Homo sapiens: one gene and its partners. The protein of the gene in region 3 purifies or fractionates together with the protein of the main gene of each other region. This does not show direct contact. Each region holds a gene or a part of one and is shown on either strand. Other genes may lie near its edges. The genes, in order: KCTD3, PLEKHA5, RTKN, AGAP1, NAV1, MAP3K21 and LARP1.

Region 1 (3,500 bases), on a different chromosome or scaffold from region 3:
TTCCTCAAAACTTTGATTCTTCTGGTAAAGAGGCAACCAATATCCAATTTTAGTAGGGCTTAGGAAATAAACTTTCTTTAGGTGCACGCGTGCACACACATATACACAAACATGCTACAGAGGAGAACCATCAATATACTTCCTTCAAAATATTTTTTTTAAATTGTATTTCCCACAGCAGTACTTTCCTTTCTCAATTTCGATTGGTTGTCTCCTCTTTTTTTGCATGTGATCACTAGATTGCAGCCCACTAGAACTGGAAGGCCGAGTCTGACCAGGTCCCTCTCTTTTCCCTTTCTCATACAAGAGATTAAATGACCTGTCCAAAGTTACACAGTAAGCAAGTGACAGAATCAGAACTAGTAAACAAAGCAACTGATTTCCAGAAAGTACTTGCTCCCTTGATAATTTATTATTTCTCTGAAAAGGTGGTATTCTCTATTTTTCATTCTCCTTGCTAAAGGTTACTTCTTTTCTAGGAAATGGCAAGGGAAACAAAGTCTCATTTGTATTTATTTTTTTAAAGTATAGGAATAAAAAAATTAGTTTTTCCAGGAAAATCAATCTAGTTTACAAATTAATACCTTCCCATATTTGTGCTAAAAGAAACCTGCCGAGGCAGGCAGATCACCAGAGGTCAGGAATTCGAAATCAGCCTAGCTAACACGGTGAAACCCTGTCTCTACTAAATATACAAAATTAGCTGGGCGTAGTGGCGCATGCCAGTAATCCCGGCTGCTCGGGAGGCTGAGGCAGGAGAATTGCTCGAACCTGGGAGGCAGAGGTTGCGGTGAGCGGGGATTGTGCCACTGCACTCCAGCCTGGGCAACAGAGTGAGACTTGGTATCCAAAAAAAAAAAAAAATGTGTTTGCTAGGATAGTTGCAATACTATTTTACTAGAGTGATATTCTACTATTCATCAAAATGAATCTTCCCTGTTTACAGCCAGGCCAGACAAGCCTGTTAAGCTTCTTCACAGATGACATTTGAATTACTAAGACACCAAGTTTTGCATACAAGTCTAAAAGATTTCCAATAATTTAAAAGTTAAAAATGTTAAGGGACTTTTACTTTTCATATACTATACCTGGCTTTCATTTGAAAAGTTAAAATCTAAACATTATCTGCTTAACATTTAAGTACTTTTTATGTACCACATATTATCCAAGAAAACAAACAATGAACTAGAGATAAGGGATGTGAGGTATCCCCTTGCTCTCTAGGAGCTGGTAACTTGTGAGAAAGAAAAATAACAGACAATTATAGTGTGACAGGCACTAAAATAGACTACAATACAATCACAGGAGAGAGGGGAAGAACTGCCATCTCAGTGCTGGTGGGTGAAGAGCAAAGATCAAGGAAGGTTCACAGAGGAAGTGAAGCTTGAAGACTGAAGTCAACTATGAGTTAGGTAGGGCAAGGGGAAAGGGAATATCTGAAGAGCAAGTAAAAAAAGCACAGAATCTAGGTTCATTCTAATTAAAAACAGAAATAACTAAAACTTGGAAATAATCATTCCTCTAAGCTCTTCCTGTATATAATCCTAATTTCTGTACCCTCTCAATGTCATGCAGTTATGAGTTACACAAGAAATATCTCAAAGAACTCAATCATCATGCCCTATCCTGAGGTCAGGCTTTTAATTAAAGCCAATGCCAAAACATTTTATACCAGGAAAACATTGAGTACTTTTCAGTGATATCAGTAAAGATGTCTAAAGGATGGAGGGGAGACTGCTTTACACACCACTAACCAATTTTCTTACTCAAGTTAGCTAAATCATTTTAGTTCTAGCACTAAAGGAAAGGGCTTCAACTCCTGCCCCAGATTCTTCATGGCAGGAAAATGGGGACAGATAAGGCCATGAGATTCTTCTCCCTTTGGATACATTCTTTTTTTTTTTTTTTTTTCAATGAAAGAGCAGCAGGAGCCTAGCGCTTCCCAAGGCACAAAGGCAAACATTTTTACCATTTATTCTCTGGGAGGATGGGCTCTAGGATTAAAGCCTTGCTACTTCTCCTTCTGTAACCTTTAATCATGATCTGCCTTTCTTTCCATGTCTACCCCTCCATACGGGAAAACAGAGAAAGCAGAGGATAAGCAGAGTTACAGTGAGTTACAACTGCTGAGTTCTTCTCTCCCAGCACAAGCAAGGAAGCAGCCACTGTGTGGCCTCCTCTTCTTCGTCCTAACAACTTCATGGCAAGAATCCAAGAAACCATACTGATTAGTATGCATGGTTCAGTCATGTGGTCACAAATATAAAATGGAAGTGGATTTTTCTCTTATAAGGTAGCACACAGTGATTACCACTAATTTCTACATGTAAATTTAAATTTACAGTTTTAAAATACCAGTCTATCTTCCCATATAAGGCCCCTAGAATCTTTTAACTACAATCTCTATACCTGTAAACTTATCATTATTTTTTACAGGATGTTTTAACCTTCGTCCATTACTTTTTAAATAATCACTTATCTAAATTTACCATCGTATTTACCAACATCTTTCCTAATCACTGCTTAATGCATTCCATTTCTTCCCCTTCAAATATAACGTTCTTCTCAAAAGGCATTTTTCTTTAGTAGTCCTTTCAAAAATTCTCTCTGAAAAAAAACCCTTCTCATTCAGGTTTGAATGATAGTTTTGCTGTGTATGAAAACCTAGGCTGAAAGTTACTTTCTCTACCATTTGGAGAATGCCCGTTGTCGTCTTCTGGTGTCTACTACTGGTGATGAGAAATCTGATCAAAGTCTAATGACAGGCAAACTGTCACTATTCTATGAATACTTTTTATCATAATTTATCTTTTATTATAGCACATTTAAACATTCAGGCTGCCAAGACTTGGTACATTTCTTTAATCAATAAATTCATGCCCATTTTCATTTCTCCAAAATGTTAGCAGTTGTTATCTTTTTCAATATGGCTCCTCTAGTCTGTTCCTATCTGAAATGCTTTCTCACTTTTTCCTTCTTTTTCATATTTTCTATCTCACTCTTGGCTCAACTGGAAATGATTTTCTCAGACGTGTCTGTCAATTTACTAATTTTCTTTTAGCTGCGCTTCTATTTAACCATTAAATAAAATTAAAAATTTTTTTTCAATGACCTTTTAATTTTCAGTATTTTATTTCCCTCCATTTTCTGATTTGTCCTATTCCTTCAATACAGCAGCTTTCTAATTGTTCCATTATTTCCAATTTGGGGATTGCAAATTTTTTCTTGTTTAATGACTTTTCGTTATTTGTTTCCATGTGAAGTTTATAAGTTTTGGGAGGTTATTTTAGCAGAAATTACTCTTTCTACAGGATTCTTGTGTGCTCTCTTCTGAGAAAGTGTTCTAACTGGTGTCATATCTGTATCTAGAAATGTCAATAGTCCTAGATCAGTTTCTCAAATTGGAGTTCTCATAGAACAAAGGCAAGTCTTTGTGCTTCAATTCACTCCTAATTTGAATATGTTGGTTTCAATTTCTAATGGTTTCCTCTTGCATCTCC
Region 2 (3,500 bases), on a different chromosome or scaffold from region 3:
GCGTAGCATAAAGAAATTACAACTACAAAGAGATACTGTCAACCTAACCAAAAGAATCTATTATTTTGAATTTCGTATAAAAACCAAAGAGGTAACTTTTTTTTTTCCTCTCTTAAAAATTGGGGGGCCAGGTGCAGTGGCTCATGCCTGTAATCCCAGCACTTTAGGAGGCCAAGGCAGGAGGATGTCTTGAGCCCAGGAGTTTGAGACCAGCCTGGTAAACATAGCAAGACCCCCATCTCTAGAAAACATTGAAAAATTAGACGGGCATGGTGTGCCTGTGGTCCCAGCTACTCGGGAGGCTGAGCCAGGAGGATCCCTTGAGCCCAGGAGTTCAAAGGTGCAGTGAGCTATGTATGATCAAATCACTGCACTATAGCGAGACCCCATCTCTACCAAATAAATAAATAAGATAAATTGTGAAAATATAAGAATAGGATTTTAAAATCAGTTCTTTCCTTCTAGTTTTAAAATGAAACCCAGTAATTAGTTTTAAATAGTAATCTCTTTCAATGTTGAGTTTCAGTGTGAAGCTAACCTATATGTTACAGGAAAGAATCAGATGTAATTATATGTTAAATTCCAATTATTGGCTATGATAAAAAATTTTTGATTTTACTTTTCATTATTAGACTTTTGGCTTGGCAGTGTCCCTTTTAGTATCTTAAAGTAAATTTAAGTTAATATACCATTGCAAAGAATTTAGATATGCTTAATTCAATCTGCTTATCTAAATAAGGTGACTGTTCTACAATCTTTAGGAAGAGGAAGTAGTCCCACCTCGTCCTCCACTTCCTCGGTCCTATGACTTTACAGAGCAGCCTCCCATAATCCCCCCTCTGCCCAGTGATAGCAGCTCCTTGCTCTGTTATAGCAGGGGCCCAGTTCATCTGCCTGAAGAAAAGAAGATGTATCAAGTTCAAGGATATCCAAGAAATGGATCTCACTGTGTAAGTGGCTGGAATAGCCACAGAATAATCAATCCTACATGTCCTCTCATTTTTGAAAATTAATTTATTTTACACTCAAACTTTTTTTTTATTATAACCTTTATAACCTCATTTTTGGCCAGCAGTTTTTAGTTTATATATGACTTTATCATTTGTGTCTTTCCTGTTTTGGTTTTGCTATTCTCATTTTTAATATTTTTATAATTTTAATATTTTATAATTTCATAGCATTTTTCATATTTTCATAAAGTGGTAACTTTTCCCATGATGAAGCAGCCGTATTTTAGATATACCATTTTAGGGTATTGGAGGCAAGATTATACCTTCAGATCAGAAAGAAGGGAGAAAGAAAAAGACCGTTACTAGGGATGGTAAAGGGGCTGGGATGTGGACATTTTGGTCTAGGAAAACTACTCAAAGATGTGGATGTTGCTAAGGAGAGATGTCACCCCTGAAAATGGGAAATACGTTTAGGGTTAAGCAAATAATGTAGGATATAATAAGCAAAGAGAAAAAGGAAATTAGAATTGAGCTAATTTGAGAACAACAAAATGTCTGTGACAGGAATTTTAGTGCTGGGATGGGCCTCACTTAGACTACCTTGTGAATGAAAATTTATTGAATTAATATAGTTATTTTTAGCCCTCAATTATTCCATCATAAAAATGTGACTTTGTTCCTAAGAGGAACAGAAATATTCTTTTTTTTTTTTTTTTTTTTGAGACAGGGTCTCACTCTTTCCCAGGCTGGAGTGCAGTAGAGCAATCTCAGCTCACTGCAAGCTCCGCCTCCCAGGTTCAAGTGATTCTCCTGCCTCAGCCTTCTGAATGGCTGGGATTATAGGCGCACACCACCATGCCCAGCTAATTTTTGTATTTTTAGTAGAGACAGGGTTTCACCATGTTGGCTGGGCTGGTCTCAAACTCCTGGCCTCAGGTGATACACCCACCTTGGCCTCCCAAAGTGCTGAGATTACAGGTGTGAGCCACTGCACCCGGCCAGAAATATTCTTAATATTAAAACGAAGTTTTGCCACTTAAAAATTTCTCAAATTTCTTCTTTCCACGTAATTGTGACATAGGTATTATTTGTGTTATATCCCAGATGGCTCACTAGGGCTACTAATGTTTAGAGTTTGATTTGTGTCTTTAGCAGTAAACATTTTAAAAGAAACTTTTAGCAGTTTTTTAGGGTAATTACATGTCTTCCTTTCAAGGGTCCAGATTATAGACTCTACAAGAGTGAACCAGAGTTAACAACAGTGGCAGAAGTTGATGAATCTAATGGAGAAGAAAAATCAGAACCTGTTTCAGAGATAGAAACTTCAGTTGTTAAAGGTCAGCATTTGTAATATGTTTTACCTCTTGGTTTTTGTTTTTGAAGACAATTTACTGCCAAAATAGTAGTAAATTCCATTTACATGTTGACTCATATATGAGTCCAACCCTTTATCTGAAACCTTTGGACTCTGATGAGTTTCTAAATTAAGAAATTTTCAGATATTAAAAGATAAAATGGCCCATAAATGATATATGTCATCTCAGCTAGGTATGAGGCAGCACCCTTTTTTTAACACTATTTCTACAATATTCATTCCAAGTGGCATAAATAAATGCTAAAAATAAAAGACATTAGCTGGGCATGGTGGCACGTGCCTGAATCCCAGTTACCCGGGAGGCTGAGGCAGGAGAATCACTGGAACCCAGGAGGTGCAGGCTGCAGTGAGCCGAGATCGCACCACTGCACTCCAGCCTGGGCAACAGAGCAAGACTTCGTCTCATAAATAAAAATAAAAGACATCACATCAGATTAGGTTTTACTAAGAAATAAGTTTATGTCAAACTTTAAAGTTTCCCATTTCCTGGGAGAGTTTTCTTTTTTTTTTTTTCTGTTTCTGGTGGTTGTTTTTGTTGTTGTTGTTGTTGTTGTTGTTGTTGTTTGTGATGTGTTGTTGTGTGTGAGGTCTCACTCTGTCACCTGAGCTGCTGTACTGGAGCAAACATGGCTCACTGTAGCCTCGACCTCCCAGACTCGGTGATCCTCTCACTTCAGCCTTCCAAGTAGCTGGGACTACAGGCACACACCACCATACCCAACTAATTTTTTAAGTATTTGTAGAGACAAGGTCTTGCCGTGTTGCCTAAGCTGGTCTTGAACTCTGGGGATCAAGCATTCCTTCCACCTCAGCCTCCCAAGGTGTTGGGATTACAAGCATGTGCCACCACACCTGGACAGGGTCTTTTCTGTGTGTGTGTTTAAAATTATGCATAAGGTATTAATGGCTGAAACAAATTTTCACACAATATCAACAAAGTAAATTCTAAAATAATATTTCTGTAATGTATACTCTGATTTTTTTCTTAATGCTGGTCATTTTTCTAGAAGGCAATTGCGTAAAGAAAAGAGTAGAGAGAGAACTATCCTAGATTAAAAAGATAGATAGGCCAGGGGTGGTGGCTAACGCCTGTAATCCCAGCACTTCAGGAGGCCGAGGTGGGCGGATCACCTGAGGTCAGGAGATCAACAACAACAGCAACAACAACAACAACC
Region 3 (3,500 bases):
ATGTCAGTGTTGCTTACATTTTACATCCAGAAGCTGAGCCCTTTTAGAATGCACAATCTAATTTGTTTGAATGGGTAGGCTTTCCTTAAGTGGTTTCTTATTTCCTTTCCCACTCCCTGCCTCTGAAGGTGAACCCCAGATATAACAAACTATTGTCAGTATGTGGTAAATTGGTGATTTTGTGAACCAGCGTTGAGGAAATTAATTTTCCAAAAGCCAGATAGCCAGTCTTACTGGATCACAGACAGGGCTTAGCAAATTAGTGCTTTTGCATTACTTGCTACCCTTCAGATCAGCTACCTTTCACCAGACACACCGACTTTTCTAAGTCCTGCCCTGGCTACTCACAAATGCGCCTCTGGGCAACACACAGTGGTGGTAAAACACCAAGGTCTCTCCCAGGTCCCTGATAAGACTTCATGGGGAAGTCATCTTTAAGGTGGTCCACATGCCACACACGCACATGCTGCACCACCACCACCCAGAAGGCCTCCTGCCTCCATCGAGGCCTCGTCTCCCCCTTGCTCACCGCCGGCTTGTCTTCCCCAGCACCTGCGCCTCCTTGCGCCGCTGCAGCTCGCCCATGTAGCTGAGGATGCGGCTGTTGCACACTAGCAGGCTCTTGGTGGCCTCCAGAGCCTGCTCTCGCTGGGAGCAGGCTGCCAGCAGCTTACAGGCCCCTTCCCTCATCCGGATCTCATGGTCTAGCTTCCTCTGCAACTCCGTGTCCTAGCCAGGGTTGGGGGAAGGGTGAGAAGGAAATGTCAGTCAGTGGACAGGCTAAAGCACTCCCCAGTCCCCAGGTGGGCTGTGGCCAGTAAAACTGACAAGAAACTAATGTTTTAGGCAGTTCAAGAGCAGGCATTGGGTCTCAATCTCAGCTGCCCACGAATAACCAGAGAAGCTTTGTAGCCAGGTGCAGTGGTGTGTGAGGGAGGCTGAGGTGGGAGGATCCCTTGAGCCTAGGAGATCAAGGCCAGCCTGGGCAACATAGTGAGACCCCACCTCTAAAAAAATATATAACAGCCGGGCACGGTGGCTCACGCCTGTAATCCCAGCACTTTGGGAGGCAGAGGCAGGCGGATCACAAGGCCAGGAGATCGAGACCATCCCGGCTAACACGGTGAAACCCCGTCTCTACTAAAAATACAAAAAATTAGCAGGGCGTGGTGGCGGGCGCCTGTAGTCCCAGCTACTTGGGAGGCTGAGGCAGGAGAATGGCATGAACCCGGGAGGCGGAGCTTGCAGTGAGCCGAGACTGCACCACTGCACCCCAGCCTGGACGACAGAGCAAGACTCTGGCTCAAAAAAAAAAAAAACATATATATATATATATAAAACAAATAAGAAAAATAGAGATGCCCTCATGCATTTGATGGTTGGAAGTATAAATTCCTTCAGCCTCTTTTGAGTGCAATTTGGAAAAAAATCTATGAAAACTACAAATTCATATATCCTTTAATTCAGCTATCCAATACCTAGCAGTTTATCTTACACATATAATTTCACATATATCTAGGTAAAGCCATACATACAAAAATATTCAGTGCGGCATTTTTTTTTTTTTTTGAGACGGAGTCTCGCTCTGTTGCCCAAGCTGGAGTGCAGTGGTACGATCTCAGTTCACTGCAAGCTCCACCTCCTGGGGTTCATGCCATTCTCCTGCCTCAGCCTCCCAAGTAGCTGGGACTACAGGCGCCCGCCACCACATCCGGCTAATTGTTTTTTTGTATTTTTAGTAGAGACGGGGTTTCACAGTGTTAACCGGGATGGTCTCGATCTCCTGACCTTGTGATCCGCCCACCTCGGCCTCCCAAAGTGCTGGGATTACAGGCGTGAGCCACCGCGCCCGGCCTCATTGTGGCATTGTTTTAAACACCAAAATTAAAACCCCTTCAGTAGGACATTGGTTAAATAAGTAACAGTACATCTGTACCCTGTAGTATTGCAGACATTAAGGAAAGAGATATGCACATGTATGCAGATATGAAACAATCTCCAAAATAAATGATGTGAGAAAAGAAGGGTAGTATTGCACATACTACCATTTGTGCATGATATATATATATGTATGCATGCATATATATACATAGATATAGATATGCATGTTTATGCATAAAATATTAGTGATTGTAGGCCTGGGAGCCAGGGATGGAAAACATTTATGATACTTTTTTTTTTTTGAGACCGAGTCTCACTCTGTCACCCAAGCTGGAGTACAGTGGCGCGATCTCAGCTCACTGCAACTTCCACCTTCCAGGTTCAAGTGATTCTTGTGCCTCAGCCTCCTGAGTAGCTGAGATTACAGGCATGTGCCACCACGCCCGAGTAAGTTTTGTATTCTTTTTTTTTTTTTTTTTTGAGACCGAGTCTTACTCTGTTGCCCAGGCTGGAGTGAAGTGGCATGATCTCGGCTCACTGCAAACTCCGCCTCCCAGGTTCAAGCAATTCTTCTGCCTAGCCTCCGGAGTAGCTGGGATTACAGGTGTGAGCCACCACACCCAGCTAATTTTTGTATTTTTAGTAGAGACGGGGTTGCACCATGTTGGCCAGGCTGGTCTCAAACTCCCGACCTCAGGTGATCCACCCGCCTTGGCCTCCCAAAGTGCTGGGATTGCAGGTGTGAGACACCATGCCTGGCCTAACTTTTGTATTCTTAGTAGAGACAGGGTTTCGCCATGTTGGCCAGACTAGTCTCGAACTCCTGGCCTCAAGTGATCCTCCCACCTCGGCCTCCCAAAGTGCGGGATTACAGGCTTGAGCCACTGCGCCCAGCCTAATGATACTTTATATATACCCTTTGTACTACTGGAAATTGTATTTCCTTTAAAAAATATTAGATCTTTGGAGTTTAAAAAAAAATGATCAGGCCCTACCTAAGATTTGCAGAATAAGAATCTCTAGGAGTGGGGCATATGTACTTTTGGAAAACTCCCCAAGTGATTCTGAGGTACACCCAGGTTGAGAACCACCAACTCATGGGAATGGACAGAAGGAAAGGCAAATGAGAGTTATCCCTCAGACTCAAGTGATGCCAGGGACATCTAGTTGGCAAGGGATCAGTGGACAAGGAGCATACCACCTACAGTGTTCACTGACGCTGCACAGAAACCTATACACCCCAAATTAAGAGAATCACCACCTACCGGCCCTCTGAGCTTGGGAGATGAGGTCAGAGGCAAGGAATGGGGATGGGAAGGTAGGTGGTCCAGGAATGAGGGACTGTGGATAAGGGCCAGCTGAGAGGCCCTGGAAGAGACACCAGGATTCTCAGGAACATTCATTTAGAAAGGAGCCCTGGAGGTCCTGCTTCTTAAAAAGCAATGGGCAATTTGCTCAACCTCCCTAAGCCTCAGTTTCCCCATCTGTAAATCAGGAATGGAAATAGTCCTAGGGCTGTGAGAATTCTGTGAGGCAGGAACTTAAAGCACTTAGCACAGTGCCCAGCATGTGGTATACATTAATGGCAGGGATGCTTATTTTAATGACGCTATACTTTG
Region 4 (3,500 bases), about 160 Mb from region 3:
AGTCTTGGTACACACTCATGATTATTTACTAAGAATAGATTCCTGGAAGTAGAAGTTCTAAGTGAAAGGATATGTACTGGATATGTACCTTTTTCCCCACCTAGAGAGAGGGTCTTGCTCTGTTGCCCAGGCTGGAGTAGTGCAATCATAGCTCACTGCAGCCTCCATCTCCTGGGCTCAAGTGGTCCTCCCACCTCAGCCTCCTGAGTAGCTGGAACTACAGGTGTGAACCATGCACCTGGCTATTTAAAAATTTTTTTGTAGAGACAATGGTCTCCCTATGTTGGCCAGGCTGGTCTCGAACTCCTTGCCTCAAGTGATCCTCCCACCTTAGCCTCCCAAAGCACTAGGAGTACAGGCGTGAACCATCGTGTCTGGCTGATATGTAGTGTTTTTGAGGCTTATTTATTAAGTATGCATTTAATATTATGGTTAAAGCAAAAATTGATCAATTTCAGAGGACAGTTACAATAAGCTTGATTTTTGCGTAAGAATTCTTCATAAATTGAAACATCTCATCAAATTGATGTGAAATAATATATTACTTGCTACATAATAAATTATAATGTATTAATCACTACTGTCTAATTAGCATCATGCGTTATTGAATTTTAATTCCCTTTGGTTAGATACCCAAGTATTCAAAATATGTTTAAACAGTTTACACTGGCATCTGGAATGCAAGTGTGTGATCACACACACACACACACACACACACACACATACAAAGGGATGTGCCTCTGTCTCTCTGTGTACCTGTATCATTTCTGTGGTTGGTTGGTTTGTCTGTCTGTCTAGCTATGCCTATACCTGTATCAGCTCTCAATTATCCACTGGCAGGTAAAATACTATAAAGCTGGTGGTCAACTGGGCCTGTATTTTTGCCTCCCGCTACTCCTTGTGGACAGTATTTCCATGTTTTATGCCCTCACACCTGTTCAACCAATGCCCACGATGACCAGCTCTGAGTCGGCCACCTTTGGTTGCTCAACGCGTCCTCCTCCCAAGGGAGCAATTCCCTGGAGAACAGGCGCCTAGTGAGGGCCGAGGGCAGCATTCTAAGGCTGGTGTGTGCATGAGCTGAGACACGAGTCAGGAGGAGCCTGGCAAGGTGTGGAATGGGAAAGGCTGCCACCATCCCAGATCTTCCTGAATTAGGTCGAGGTGGCAGGGGCTCAGAGTCTGCCGTGAAAGACTGTGATTTCTCCATGAAGGCAGGAACCTGTGCCTCTCTGTTCGGTAACACAGCCTGCCTCCCTGCCTTCCTTCTCAGAATGAGCTGCCCACGCTTGGAGGATGCTGTGTGCTGTTGCTTCCCATTGAGGTGGCCCCAAAGCACCCTGTGCTCGTTTCAGGAGGCACATCATGGATGCATGTGGACGTGACCCAGTAAAGCCAGGGTGTATGGAATGAAAGGCAGTGGTTCTCCCCACCTTGAGTATAAAACATCTTTTAAAAAGGGAAGCAAATTACATTATAATAATAATGACTGTGGTCTGGTTTACCCTGGTTAAAGAGGGTAATAAAATAAGACACTTCATCTTTCTGAAAGACAGACTCTCTTTTTAGTGACAAAGCTGCACATAAATCATAGGCAGAAATTTCTTTAAATGGTTACAAATGAAACTGCAGGTCGGTGGGTAACATCCTTTCTCTTAGTTTCTAGTTGATCATAGTCTGAAATATCAAAATGCTCTCCAAAAGTCTAAGACGTCCCAGCAAAGAGGTTAAAGACAAACAAACATTAAAATAATGAAACTGAAGCAATCCTTGATGGGAAAAAGGACTTTTGTAGAAGGAACATCACTGGGCAGTAGCCTAGAGAACACAGGTTAAGCCAGGCGTGGTAGCTCATGCCTGTAATCCCAGGACTCTGGGTGTCTGAGGCAGGTGGATCGCTTGAGCCCAAGAGTTTGAGACCAGCCTGGGCAACGTGATGAAACCCCACCTCCACAAATAATATATATTACATAAATAAATATACAAATAAATAAGCAAGCAAGCCAGGCCTGTAGTCCCAGCAACTCAGGAGGCTGAGGTGGGAGGATTGCTTGAGCTTGGAGGTTGCAGTGAGCTAAGATTGTGCCACTGTACTCCAGCCTAGGTGACAGAGATAGACTCTCTCCAAAGGAAAAAAAAATACAGGTTAAAATATTTTTCCTTTTCTAGCTAAGTAACTACAAAAAACAAATTGCCTCTCATTATTTTTTTAATATAGAAACATTTGGGGGTGGCGTTTTCTGGTGAGAACCAGAAAACCTGCTGGACAAATTCTAAAAGAGCTGCACCACCACCTCTAATTATTGAATAAAACACATACCAGGCTTTATCAGTTTAGATAATAGAAACTTTATCTTCCCAAACTCCCTGCACGCTCATACAGACCCATCTACTTTTCATTTATGTCCCTAACAAGAGACGGTTTTCCAACTTGATGTCGATTTGAATTCTGGGCATTTACTTGAACAGTGCATCTTTTAAGTCCGTCTCTCTTTTTTTCTGAGTGTATTCTGTCCAAAACAAAAATAAATGTGGACCCAGAAGCCACAAGAGTCCAAAAGATTCCCTCTGGGATTGGCTGACAGACTGAAGATTTAACCTTGGCTCTCCTGCCAGGGAAGCACGGTCAGGCTGGAATACTCATGTATGATGGTATAGACACAAAGTGCTTCTGATCGTTTTAGTTATTGAGCTTTCTGCTCATAAAGAATAGCTAGGTCCTGTCATTCACACTGGTCCTCTATTTTCTCCTCCCTGGGGCATTACTTGGGGCCCGCACTCCCCCTGAGCAGCCCCAGCCTTGGTTTTGGGCAGCCAGGGGCCTCACCTTGTTCTTGCTGCTCTCGCACGACTGCAGGCTGGCCAGGATCTGGCTCTCGATGGCTTGGACCCAGGCGTCCCGCTCCTCATACGTCGTGGCTTCAAAGTGCCATGTTTGGCCAGTGAGGGACACAATGATAAACTCAAAATTTTCTTCTTGTTCTGAAACACAGAGTGTGGGATGAAGAGTTTAGCTTTTATGAGACAGCAGTCCCCCTGCGGGCCCTCTGTCACAGAAGCGCCTCTGGGTTCAGCTGCCCCTGCATGGACCGGTGAGGCGCACGGCACTGGACAACCACGGCGGCGGAGATTTGAATCCATGCACCTCCCAACAGTCCAGATGTGGTTCCTAAGGCCAGCATGACTTAGCCAGGTTTCAATCAAGGCTCAGGGCACAAGGCCAGATGAAATCAACGAGTGATGTCAGCGTCTCTGTGTGGTGCACACACAAAGCAACTTAGGAGAATAACCATGTAACTCATGGCTGACCATCCTTATCTGTGGGACGAAAATTAAGTTAGGGCCGCTAATCTCCGGCTGCAGGGTTAATTTCTATCTAAGCACTCGCGTAGATCCACAGACACTCCATGGATAGAGGAACGCGGGAAGGTTCTGTTCTTTTATGGCAGAGGACCTGTTACCGTGGGAGAGGCATCAATTCCCACGTTTTCAGACAGGGA
Region 5 (3,500 bases), on a different chromosome or scaffold from region 3:
CTAGCCAACCAGATAGACCGGGAAACAGGAATTGGGGATGTGCCCCTGGTGATTCTATTGGATGACCTGAGTGAAGCAGGCTCCATCAGTGAGTTGGTCAATGGGGCCCTCACCTGCAAGTATCATAAATGGTAAGTAAGCTGGGATCAAGACAAAATTCATCGAAGTGGGAGGAGGGAGAACCCAGTCCAGGACAACCTATGAGTTGTGTGCATGTGGCAGAAAGCAAGTGTGAAGGCAAGTCTAAGTGAATCTTTTTCCCCTTTCTCCCTACAGTCCCTATATTATAGGTACCACCAATCAGCCTGTAAAAATGACACCCAACCATGGCTTGCACTTGAGCTTCAGGTAAGACCTCTAGCTCTGGATGAACCTTCTGACCCTACCCAAGAGTCTTCAATCCTGGACTCTGGCCAGGAGGCAGTAGATAGGAGAAGGAAAGAGAAGTATCCAGAGCTTTTTGGGCTGGAAATAGAAAGTAGATGTATTTGTCATGTCAGTTACAAGGTGGAGGAGGACACTTGAGGAGAGAAAAGGCCTGCTAAGCTAAGAGAGAGCCAGGTAGGTTGCTCTAAGCAGAATTAGGATTCTCTGCCCGCACACGCTGATCTGGGTCAGTGATGTCAGAAGGTTATCCGAAGAGGGCTACCAATTTGAGAATCAGCTCTACCACCCCAGGGCTGCTGCTCTGAGTTCCGATGTCCCCACTATTACTTGAAAAGAAACCAAGTAGGCATTAGTGAGAAGCAGGCAGAAGGAGGGACAGACTGGCAGGGGCTGAACCCTGACAATGTCCCCATTGCCACTCTGACCCCACTTTCCCCATCCTTGGTGGCAGGATGTTGACCTTCTCCAACAACGTGGAGCCAGCCAATGGCTTCCTGGTTCGTTACCTGAGGAGGAAGCTGGTAGAGTCAGACAGCGACATCAATGCCAACAAGGAAGAGCTGCTTCGGGTGCTCGACTGGGTACCCAAGCTGTGGTATCATCTCCACACCTTCCTTGAGAAGCACAGCACCTCAGACTTCCTCATCGGTACTGGGGTCCAGCTTCCCCCGGGGGTCAGGAGGTGGCTTCCCTTTTCCACTGTACCACCTGGAGGGATGCTCCCTTCTCTTCCTGGAGTCTTCGGCATGTAAAGGAGCTGCAAGCCTTGTGGCTTCAGACTTAGAACCACTTAACGAGCCTTCCCAACACAGTTAGCACCACTTCAATCACCAGAAAGCTAACCCCTCTCCTTGTTTTTTTCCCACAATTAACAGAAAAAAGGAGGCACATATGTAGGAAGGAATTAAACAGCTTTCCTCACTCCCTTATCTCACTTCTACCTTGTGAAGCAGGACTTATGAGATTGCCATCTAGGCAGTCAGCACCCACTAGTCTTGACAACTCTAAATTTCCTTTAATCCTTTGACTGTCAGACCCCTCTGCCTGGTACTAAGGAGTAAAAGAGGCACACAACCGGGAAGATCTAGGTTCCCAGCCATCTTCATGGCCCCATCCTCTTCCCTAGGCCCTTGCTTCTTTCTGTCGTGTCCCATTGGCATTGAGGACTTCCGGACCTGGTTCATTGACCTGTGGAACAACTCTATCATTCCCTATCTACAGGAAGGAGCCAAGGATGGGATAAAGGTGAGCCCTACCCCCTTCACTCAAACCCTAAGATCAGGCTGTCCTACCTAACAAAGTAGGAATGTTTCTTTAATGTTAGGCATGGGACTACTAGGATTAGTTAGGTTCTCTTTCTAACAGGTGGAGCAAGGCACTGGGTAGACTAAGCTGCTTTCCTGCCTCCAGCTGCCATTCAGCAAATGGTACAATGACCACTGCCTCTGGGGCCATCTCTCCAGTCCTAGGCCTTCTGGCTCTAAGCCCAATTTAAACCACTCTCTAGGGGTCAGAGCAAACAGAAAAATAATTGAGCTAAGAAGTAAGTAAAACCCTAATTAAAACAAACAAACAAACAAACAAAACCTTAGCTACTTACTACTAATAAGTATGTTATATTAACCAAGTTACTTGACCTTTTTAAATACCCTCATATGTAAAAAAAAAAAGGAGACATCACCTTCTGCTCTACCTAAATCACTGGAGTCTTTTGAAGACAAAATGAAATATGTGAAAAGATTTTTAAAAGTTAGAATAAGGAGACCGGGCGTGGTGGGTCATGCCTGTAATCCCAGCACTGTGGGAGGCCGAGGCGGGCAGATCACCAGGTCAGGAGATCAGGACCATCCTGGCTAACATGGTGAAATCCCCTTTCTACTAAAAATACAAAAAATTAGCCAGACGTGGTGGTGGGCGCCTGCAGTCCCAGCTACTTGGAAGGCTGAGGCAGGAGAATGGCGTGAACTCGGGAGGCAAGAGCTTGCAGTGAGCTGAGATCACGCCACTGTACTCCAGTCTGGGCAACAGAGCGAGACTCTGTCACAAAAACAAAAACAAACAAACAAACAAAAAAACTTAAAATAAGGCTGGGCCTGGTAGCTCTCGCCTGTAATCCCAGCATTTTAGAAGGCTGAGGCGAGAGGACTACTTGAGCCCAGGAGCTTGGGCAACATGGGAGACCCTGTCTATACAAAAAATAAAAAAAATCAGCCAGGCATGGTGGTGCACACCTGTAGTCCCAGCTACTCTGGAGGGTGAGGCCAGAAGATCACTTGAGGCCAGGATATACAGGCTACAGTGAGCCATGTTCTCACCACTACACTCCAGCCTGGGCAACAGAGTGAGAACCTGTCTCAAAAAAAAAAACAATTAAAATTAAAAGTTAGAATAAAAACTTAGTGCAAAAGGAACATGTCATTTTCTTAAAACCACCTCAGTTTTCTTACCTGTAAATTAGGGTATGATGATCACTAAAGTCCATTCCAGCACTAATAAACTGTGATGTAATGGCTAGACCCATGGGTCATATATTATCTGTAAAAGTAACTTGTTATTGAGATAGATATCTCCTGGTGATATAGTAAATTTCTAAAGATGCTGTCAGACTGATGCCAGAAATCATTATTTCATTTATAAATTATATTATTTTAAGGAAATGTTGCATTATTATTAGTAGCTTTTCAATTTAAAAGCATTTTCACACAGATAGTATTTGTTTTCAAGAAAGTAAAAAACAAAAAAAAAGCCGGGTGCGGTGGCTCACGCCTGTAATCCCAGCACTTTGGGAGGCCAAGGCAGGCGGATCACAAGGTCAGGAGATCGAGACCGTCGTGGCTAACACAGTGAAACCCCGTCTCTACTAAAAATACAAAAAATTAGCTAGATGTGGTGGTGGGCACCTGTAGTCCCAGCTACTCGGGAGGCTGAGGCAGAAGAATGGCGTGAACCTGGGAGGTGGAGCTTGCAGTGAGCCGAGATCACCGCCACTGCACTCCAGCCTGGGTGACAGAGGGAGACTCTGTCTCAAAAAAAAAAAAAAAAAGTTAAAAAAAAAAAATTAAGCATTATGACTAAAGCGGAAACATTTCCTACTTGAAAAATGAAATTGTAGG
Region 6 (3,500 bases), on a different chromosome or scaffold from region 3:
TAATGCAACCTACTTGGGGTCGGATTTCCATCAGACATGGTCCGTCTGTGATGTGACGGTCTATGTTTTGAAGAAGCACAGTAAGGTACATTCCCACATGTCTGCTGTAGGAAGGAAGACGGCAAGTTTCTTGATACACTACAATCAGTGTCAAGTCTTGGCATGAGGGCTGGCTCACGACCACTTCCTGGGGCAGTGGGACAAAAATCCGGAGTGAGCATCTCAGAGTCACAAGTGACAGGTGCACTGTCCACCAGTGGATCTTCACTGTCCATCTGCAGCAGGCACTTTGTGGAGAAAGAAGGTGTGGAGAGGATGCCCAGGGCACTTGACAGTGGCAGGGAGGGTGGGCTGCTGGCCTCCCCACAGGTGGATGGCAGGCTTGTGGGAGGACTGGCGCTTCTGCGGGACTTGGAAGCCCGCTGGAAGATTCCCTCTCGTTTCTTCTTCTCTTCCTTGGGCAACGGTTCTTCAGCAGCCTGTGCTTTATGAAGCTCTCTGAGGTCCAGTCCCAGAGCCACCGATGCCAGAAGGACGGTGCACCCATACAGAGCTGACTCCGTTTTCTTTCTCTGGGGGGATCTACTCAGACTATTCGTAGGAGTCATCTCAATGGAGACTGTGGCAGCATTCGCAGAGGCTGCCTCCTCCCAGCTTTCAGCTTCTGCAGGATTCTCTCTCTGAGCATCTTTCCCAAGAGGTAGATCAATGTAGGCCTGACTAGGCAATTTTATTTGTTTTGGTTTTCTGTGTTCTAATCCATCAGGGGAAAGTTTTGGCTCTTCACAGGACCCTAAATAAAGGTATAAGTACATACACTGTAGTATCATTTTACAGCAAAAGTCATTTAAACAAGATTGTAAAATAAAGCTAAAATATAATAAATACATATTTTAAATCAAAACACATGCAGCCCTTTTCATTTCTGCAAATGATTCATCCAGGAGGGCTCCATGGAGCAAGAGTCTAGGGCCCTACAACTTCAGGTTCCCTGCAGATGAACCAGCAAGCTAGCCATCTGCTGTTTCCTATGCTTCGGGAAGCTGTTCTTCATCAGCTTCAATAATAGACACTATTGTAGAAACAGTCATCAAAACACAAAAACGCACAACCATAGGCACAAAATCACTAAATATGTCACCAAATGTGCTCTTTTCCTCACTTCACCTAAATACATGCATCAGGCTCCATTATCTACAGCTTTCCTGTGTATAAACTAACTGTTCTGTAGCAGATCAGCAGTTCTCAAAGTGTGTGGCCTGGACTGGCAGCATCTGCATCCCCTGGGAATTTGTAGAAATGTAAATTATTGGCCCACCCCAGACTATGGAATCAGAAATTCTGAAGAGTGGAGTCCAGCAGTCTGTGTTTCAGCTAGCCTTTACTGAAGTTTGGGGACCATTAAAATAGAAGATTCTCCCAAGAGGTTACAGAATCCCAAAGGTTACAAATTATACCCGCTTAAGAGGAAGCTAACATTCTTATCACAAAAGTGACAGCGCATAATTAAACAACAAACTCATTAATCTGATTTCCAAATAACATCTCTAATTTTTTCCAACACTACATCCTAGTATACCTAAACATGCTTGATGATCTAGACCAGGGGTCCCTGAACCCCAGGCCATGGACTGATACCGTGGCCTGTTAGGAACCAGGCTGCACAGCAGGAAGTGAGCAGCAGGTGGGCGAGTGAAGCTTCTTTTGCATTTACAGCCAGTGCCCATTGCTCACATTACCACCTGAGCTCCGCCCTGTGTCAGTTCAGCAGAAGCATTAGATTCTCATAGGAGCATGAACCCCATTGTGAACTGCACATACAAGGGATCTAGGTTGCTCCTTATGAGAATCTAGGATCTGATGATCTGTTGCTGTCTCCCATCACTCCCAGATGGGACCATCTAGTTGTAGGAAAACAAGCTCAGGGCTCCCACTGATTCTACATTATGGTGAGTTGTAGAATTATTTCATTATGAATTACAATGTAATAATAATAAAGTGCACAACAAATGTAATGCGCTTGGATCATCCTGAAACCATCCCTACCCCACTGGTCCATGGAAAAACTGTCTTCCATGAAACTGGTCTCTGGTGCCATAAAGGTTGGGGACTGCTGATGTAGACAATTTGGGGTGCCAGCTTTCTTTCTCCAAAGAACCCTGTGCTCTTCCCTGTGGTGCCTTTTGTTTGGGGTACCCTCTTTTTCCTTCCACTCCCTGACGTTGCTGACCCAAGCTCCCTTTTCCTTCATAAAGGAGAACCTTCAGAAGGAGAAGCTGAACCCAGGTAGTGAGTGCAAAGGTGCTTGTGAAATTGAGCACAGTACCAATAACAAATTCAATACATTTACATTGTGTCTTGCTAAGGCATCTTTAATTTGATCAAAGTACCAAAGAGTCTGCCTAAATGGTCAAGTATAAAGACCAATTTTATTTTCTGTGTTAGTAACCGTGCTTGAAGTTTTTCAACGATTTCCATCTCTTCAATCTTTTAATACTGAATACTGAATACAAATATAGAATATTGAAAGTAAATCATTATGATTCATTTAAATTAAATAGAAATTCCAGTGTAAAACTCTCCAAGGAGTCATTTTTCTTATTTATTTATTTATTTATTTATCTAGAGATAGAGTCTCATTCACTCTATTGTCCAGGCTGGCATGCAGTGGCACAATCTTGGCTCACTGCCACCTCTGGCTCCCAGGTGCAAGTGATTCTCTTGCCTCAGCCTCCTGAGTAGCTGGGATTACAAGCAAGCACCACCATGCCGGCTAGTTTTTGTGTTTTTCATAGTTAACCTGTTTCATTGGATTTCCTCATGTCAACAGGTGGCACTATAGCAAGAAGCCATACCCCTTAATCTCAGCAGAACTTTCAGGGGGGTCTATATTTTTACATCTAATATTTCCCATACTAAATTGATTTGGTTTTACATAATTAATTGTGATAATAATGTTTCTGGTAAGGAAGAAGAGTTACAAATTCCCAAAACCACGTGAAGCCTAATTACTTCCTGCCATAAATACTTGACGGAAAATAACTTCTGAATTTAAGTAAAGCTATAAGAAATGCCATTACTTGCTAATCTCCCCTCTGCTACTTTAATGACCACGTAAGACTGTAAAAGCAAAGCTTCAGCACAATCAGATGCCAAGGACTGCTCAAGCAAATCCTACCTCCTGAAACACATTTACCTGGCTGGTCCACAAACAATGAAGCCAAGGGCATGGTTTTCTGATTTTTTATTAAGATAGTTGACCAAGGACTGTTGCCATCGGAGAGAGGTCTTATCCTACAAGAGAAAAATGTTTCTTTTCATAAGATAGAAGCACACAACACACCAATTAGGTTTTGGTGGATACAGACCAACAATATTTTTAAGGTAGTAAAGAGAACACATTTGTACTCAGTTTTGAAGGGCTGACAAAGTACAAATAATACCTGAAAGTGAGACAGGAAAAATCTCAGAAATATTCTAACTGCTTAACTAAATAATAG
Region 7 (3,500 bases), on a different chromosome or scaffold from region 3:
AGCCTCAGAACACAGAGCAGGTGAAGGATTTAGCACTTCCTTAGCTCAGACAAGGCAAGGGAGAGAAGCAAAGCACTGGAATGCAATGAAGTAGACCCAAGACTCTGAGCAGCCCGACAGGAATGCCTCACCTTGGCATCCAGTGTCCGTCCTTCTTTCACCACTGGGTAAAACCGTGATGTCTGGCTTGAGTCTTTGAGCTGTGGTGTCCGGGGAGTGCGAGGGGTCCTGGTGTTGCGGTAGTTTGGTGACTCTGGGACAGTGGTTGGTAGAGAGCGGGCGATGGTGGAGGGCTCAGGAGCACCAAACAACTTGTTGGCCAGGGCATCCGTAGGAACTGCAGAGGCAGAGAGAGGAGTCAGGAAGCAGGGAAAGGCCTGTGGCATCCACCCCAGGATAGCCCCCAGTCCAAGGGCCCTAGATCCTCTCACCCATGTCAGGATCTCAGGTGTCTGCTTCTCACCTTGCTGGAACCGAGGTGGCCCAGGAGGAACTTCCTGGTTGGGATCCACAGGGGGCTCAGGGGTCAGTGTGTCAAACTGCTCCCGGCTGATCATATTGACCTTTTTGAAGTTCTCGACTTCTTGCTGCAGAGGTCATGAGATGAGTGGGGAAAGATGTAAGTAAGCAGGCTGCTCTAGCCTGTTTAAGGAATCAAGACTGGCAGGAAGTTGGAGAGGGCAGCTCCCACGTCGACATACGTGGAATTCTGGTCCCCAGGCTCTCAGCTGCCCAGTCACCATTCCTCACCCCAGTTACCTTGGCACAAGTGTGCTAGCCCAGAAGAAGACAGTGCTTGCCCTGCCCTCCCTGTAGTAAGACTGAGATCAGGCTGACAGTAGCTCCTCAGGAACTCACTACACACTCCCCCCTGAAAGCTCCAGTGTTTCCCCATCTCTCTTTCTGCTACTGCCTTATCACACAGTGGCTGGGCAACTCTCCTTCCTCCTTACTTCCAGGAAACACACTGCTACTTATTACAAAGGCTCACCCTAGGACAACCTACCACCAAACATACCCACTCTAAAATCCCACAACAGAGATGTTTTGACTATTTCCAGGCAGCAGCAATTTTTCAAAAGACTTATCTTTTCTCCATTTTCCATACTCAACACAAGCTTCTTAAAAGGCTTCTAAATTTTTAGATGCCTAAATATTTAAGACTAGAAATAACAATCTAACCCTTTTTCTGTTCCCCACAAAAGTGTCTAGCCAACTGTCAGAATATTAACTATGGATCCGCAGATAGGATAATAATCACCACCGCCTCACCTGAAGAGTTTGCAGTGTTTACACATCACCCCTCACTCCTAATGCCCAAGCTAGATGTCAGTCATCATCCCCTTCCCATATATAAAAATCCTGAGACTCTGAATTATAAGGACCTGCCTAAAATTGCACAGCTAATCAGGCTTCCTCTTCTCCGTACAATACAGGCACACCAGGCTCCACACTCACTGCTATGTCCAAGCCTCACCTTGATCTGGGAATACTCAGGTTCAAACTTTTCAGCCCACAGGTCCTGCTCATAGTAGAAGAGGCCATCATTAATGACCTTGGCCAGTTCGGCGCTCATCTTGGCACGCGAGGTGTGGTTGCCTGTGCGGTCCCCCCCTGGGTGCCGGCGCATGTAATGTGGTGTCTGGGTGACAATGAGGATCTTGTTGACATCCCTGTCATCAATCTCATAGTCAGATTCCTCATCAGACCAGGCAGTGAAGGTGTTCTTCCGCCCATCCATCTGCTCCATCTCCTCGTCAAACAGAAAATCCAGTTCCTCTTGCTCATCCTGATCCTTGGACATCAGCTGCTGGGAAGGCAGCTGCTGAGGCAGAGAGGTCAGGTGGGAAAATCTGGACTCCTCTGACTTCTAAAATAGGACAGACGAAGGGGAAAAGGAATCACCAGAGATCCTTGGCCCAGATTCTGTAGCTATACCATGAGAGGGAAGCTCCAGCCTCTCAACATAAGACTGTTCAACTATGACCCTGGTAACACCAGCAGGTCACAAGCGTCATCCTGGGAGTCAGCTTTATGACTATGAGAAAGGATGTTTCATAGAAGTCCAGGTTCCTCCACTCACAGCTCATATCACAGTCATGCACAAACAACTGATGATGACTTCTCTATAGGCAGGAACTGTGCTCTCATTTACCTTTATATCCTACATAGCACCTAGCTTAGGAGTGGACACACAGAAGTTCAGCAGGTTGATTCATCCACTTATCCATCTATTCAACATCTCCCAATAAACTGGAAGCTCCATGATCCACAGCTGCCTTGCTTTCCATTATATACTCAGTACCTAGACGGGGATCTGGTAATACCAGATGTTCAATTATATAATAAATGAGGGAGTACCCATTAGTCCTAAGCTCTGTATGAAAAACCTAAAAGCAGAATAAGACAAGGTCCCTGTTACTTAGGGAGCTCAATGGGAGAAAGTCAACCAAACAGCCAACTGCATTGTGGTATGGTAAAGGCTATAAGCAGGTTTGTGGATGCACACAGTTAAAGGAGCTTAGTCAACTGTGACTAAGAATGGTTACGGAAGGCCTCCTTCAAGAAGTGACTACCACAGGATGAACATAAGTAAGCCAGATGAAGATAGGGACAGACTAGGCAGAAAGAATACCATTGTTCCAAAGGCAAGAGAAAACACGGTGCCTTCAGCAAAGAAAAACTATTTGTTTTGATAGACTGAATATGAGACGCTGAGAGAGAAGCATTTGTCTAAACCCACAGTATTTATTCAAAAGTAGATTCCCTGCTGTGCCAAGAGCACATAAACTCTAAACCTATCTTTTTTTAAGGTTTAAGATAGACCAGGTCAGAGTAGGGGCTCTAATTCTGGAATGGGAGCTAAGTCTGACCCCTGTTTCAAACAAAACTTTGTAGGCCTGGACTTTGTAAAACCCTCATCTACTTACTACCTTTCTCCTCATGTCTCTGGCTGGATCTCCAACACTTTTTGAGGGCTGAAGCCACAACTGTGGGGAATTCTGTGTATGAACAGGCAGGCAAGAGAAAGGAGATGAGAGGTAATCACTGTGGGAAAATAGATAAGGGAGTATAGAATTCCATAGACCCAAAGTTCAAGGTCAATTCTGCAGTCTCCTCACAAGCCCCAGGCCAGAGGTCTCCAAAGTGGGTGACAGTGAGCAGGTATGTGGAGAAAAATTCAGCACTTAAAAAGGAAGTAGTAATTTTAGTTAGAGATTGCAATACTTCTTTAACAGTGAACTTCATCTGTTTATATATATAAACTATTTCTAGAATATTCTAATGTCTCCTTCCTTTCATCTGCAGATGGAGAAACTGAAGCCTTGAGGTATGAACAGGCTTCCCAAGGTCACCTTGCCATTAGTGCAGCAGACTTGTGTAGACTAACTCCATATTTGGGCCATGCATCTGCTCCCTCTCCCTTCCTTCTTCTGAGGACCTAAGGGGCTTACATACATGATAGTGGGGACATACTCAGGGAAAAGACACCAAAAACG

The links.
Region 1: the proteins of RTKN (region 3) and KCTD3 purify together in Homo sapiens (affinity purification with mass spectrometry, with the first as the bait; one large-scale study listed by BioGRID). This does not show direct contact.
Region 2: the proteins of RTKN (region 3) and PLEKHA5 purify together in Homo sapiens (affinity purification with mass spectrometry, with the first as the bait; one large-scale study listed by BioGRID). This does not show direct contact.
Region 4: the proteins of RTKN (region 3) and AGAP1 purify together in Homo sapiens (affinity purification with mass spectrometry, with the first as the bait; one large-scale study listed by BioGRID). This does not show direct contact.
Region 5: the proteins of RTKN (region 3) and NAV1 purify together in Homo sapiens (affinity purification with mass spectrometry, with the first as the bait; one large-scale study listed by BioGRID). This does not show direct contact.
Region 6: the proteins of RTKN (region 3) and MAP3K21 purify together in Homo sapiens (affinity purification with mass spectrometry, with the first as the bait; one large-scale study listed by BioGRID). This does not show direct contact.
Region 7: the proteins of RTKN (region 3) and LARP1 purify together in Homo sapiens (affinity purification with mass spectrometry, with the first as the bait; one large-scale study listed by BioGRID). This does not show direct contact.

Annotation. Positions count from the first base shown.
Region 1 is NC_000001.11:215,598,304-215,601,803, reverse strand, and holds part of KCTD3 (BTB/POZ domain-containing protein KCTD3), read right to left. Parts: intron 1-3,500. UniProt on the Homo sapiens protein: Accessory subunit of potassium/sodium hyperpolarization-activated cyclic nucleotide-gated channel 3 (HCN3) up-regulating its cell-surface expression and current density without affecting its voltage dependence and kinetics.
Region 2 is NC_000012.12:19,346,233-19,349,732, forward strand, and holds part of PLEKHA5 (pleckstrin homology domain-containing family A member 5), read left to right. Parts: intron 1-761; coding exon 762-950; intron 951-2,166; coding exon 2,167-2,287; intron 2,288-3,500.
Region 3 is NC_000002.12:74,431,938-74,435,437, forward strand, and holds part of RTKN (rhotekin), read right to left. Parts: intron 730-3,500; coding exon 530-729; intron 1-529. UniProt on the Homo sapiens protein: Mediates Rho signaling to activate NF-kappa-B and may confer increased resistance to apoptosis to cells in gastric tumorigenesis. May play a novel role in the organization of septin structures.
Region 4 is NC_000002.12:236,036,043-236,039,542, reverse strand, and holds part of AGAP1 (arf-GAP with GTPase, ANK repeat and PH domain-containing protein 1), read right to left. Parts: intron 2,983-3,500; coding exon 2,828-2,982; intron 1-2,827. UniProt on the Homo sapiens protein: GTPase-activating protein for ARF1 and, to a lesser extent, ARF5. Directly and specifically regulates the adapter protein 3 (AP-3)-dependent trafficking of proteins in the endosomal-lysosomal system.
Region 5 is NC_000001.11:201,811,627-201,815,126, forward strand, and holds part of NAV1 (neuron navigator 1), read left to right. Parts: coding exon 1-131; intron 132-276; coding exon 277-348; intron 349-838; coding exon 839-1,035; intron 1,036-1,513; coding exon 1,514-1,632; intron 1,633-3,500. UniProt on the Homo sapiens protein: May be involved in neuronal migration.
Region 6 is NC_000001.11:233,376,224-233,379,723, reverse strand, and holds part of MAP3K21 (mitogen-activated protein kinase kinase kinase 21), read right to left. Parts: intron 3,295-3,500; coding exon 3,197-3,294; intron 794-3,196; coding exon 14-793; intron 1-13. UniProt on the Homo sapiens protein: Negative regulator of TLR4 signaling. Does not activate JNK1/MAPK8 pathway, p38/MAPK14, nor ERK2/MAPK1 pathways.
Region 7 is NC_000005.10:154,800,377-154,803,876, reverse strand, and holds part of LARP1 (la-related protein 1), read right to left. Parts: intron 1,871-3,500; coding exon 1,478-1,870; intron 588-1,477; coding exon 464-587; intron 338-463; coding exon 132-337; intron 1-131. UniProt on the Homo sapiens protein: RNA-binding protein that regulates the translation of specific target mRNA species downstream of the mTORC1 complex, in function of growth signals and nutrient availability.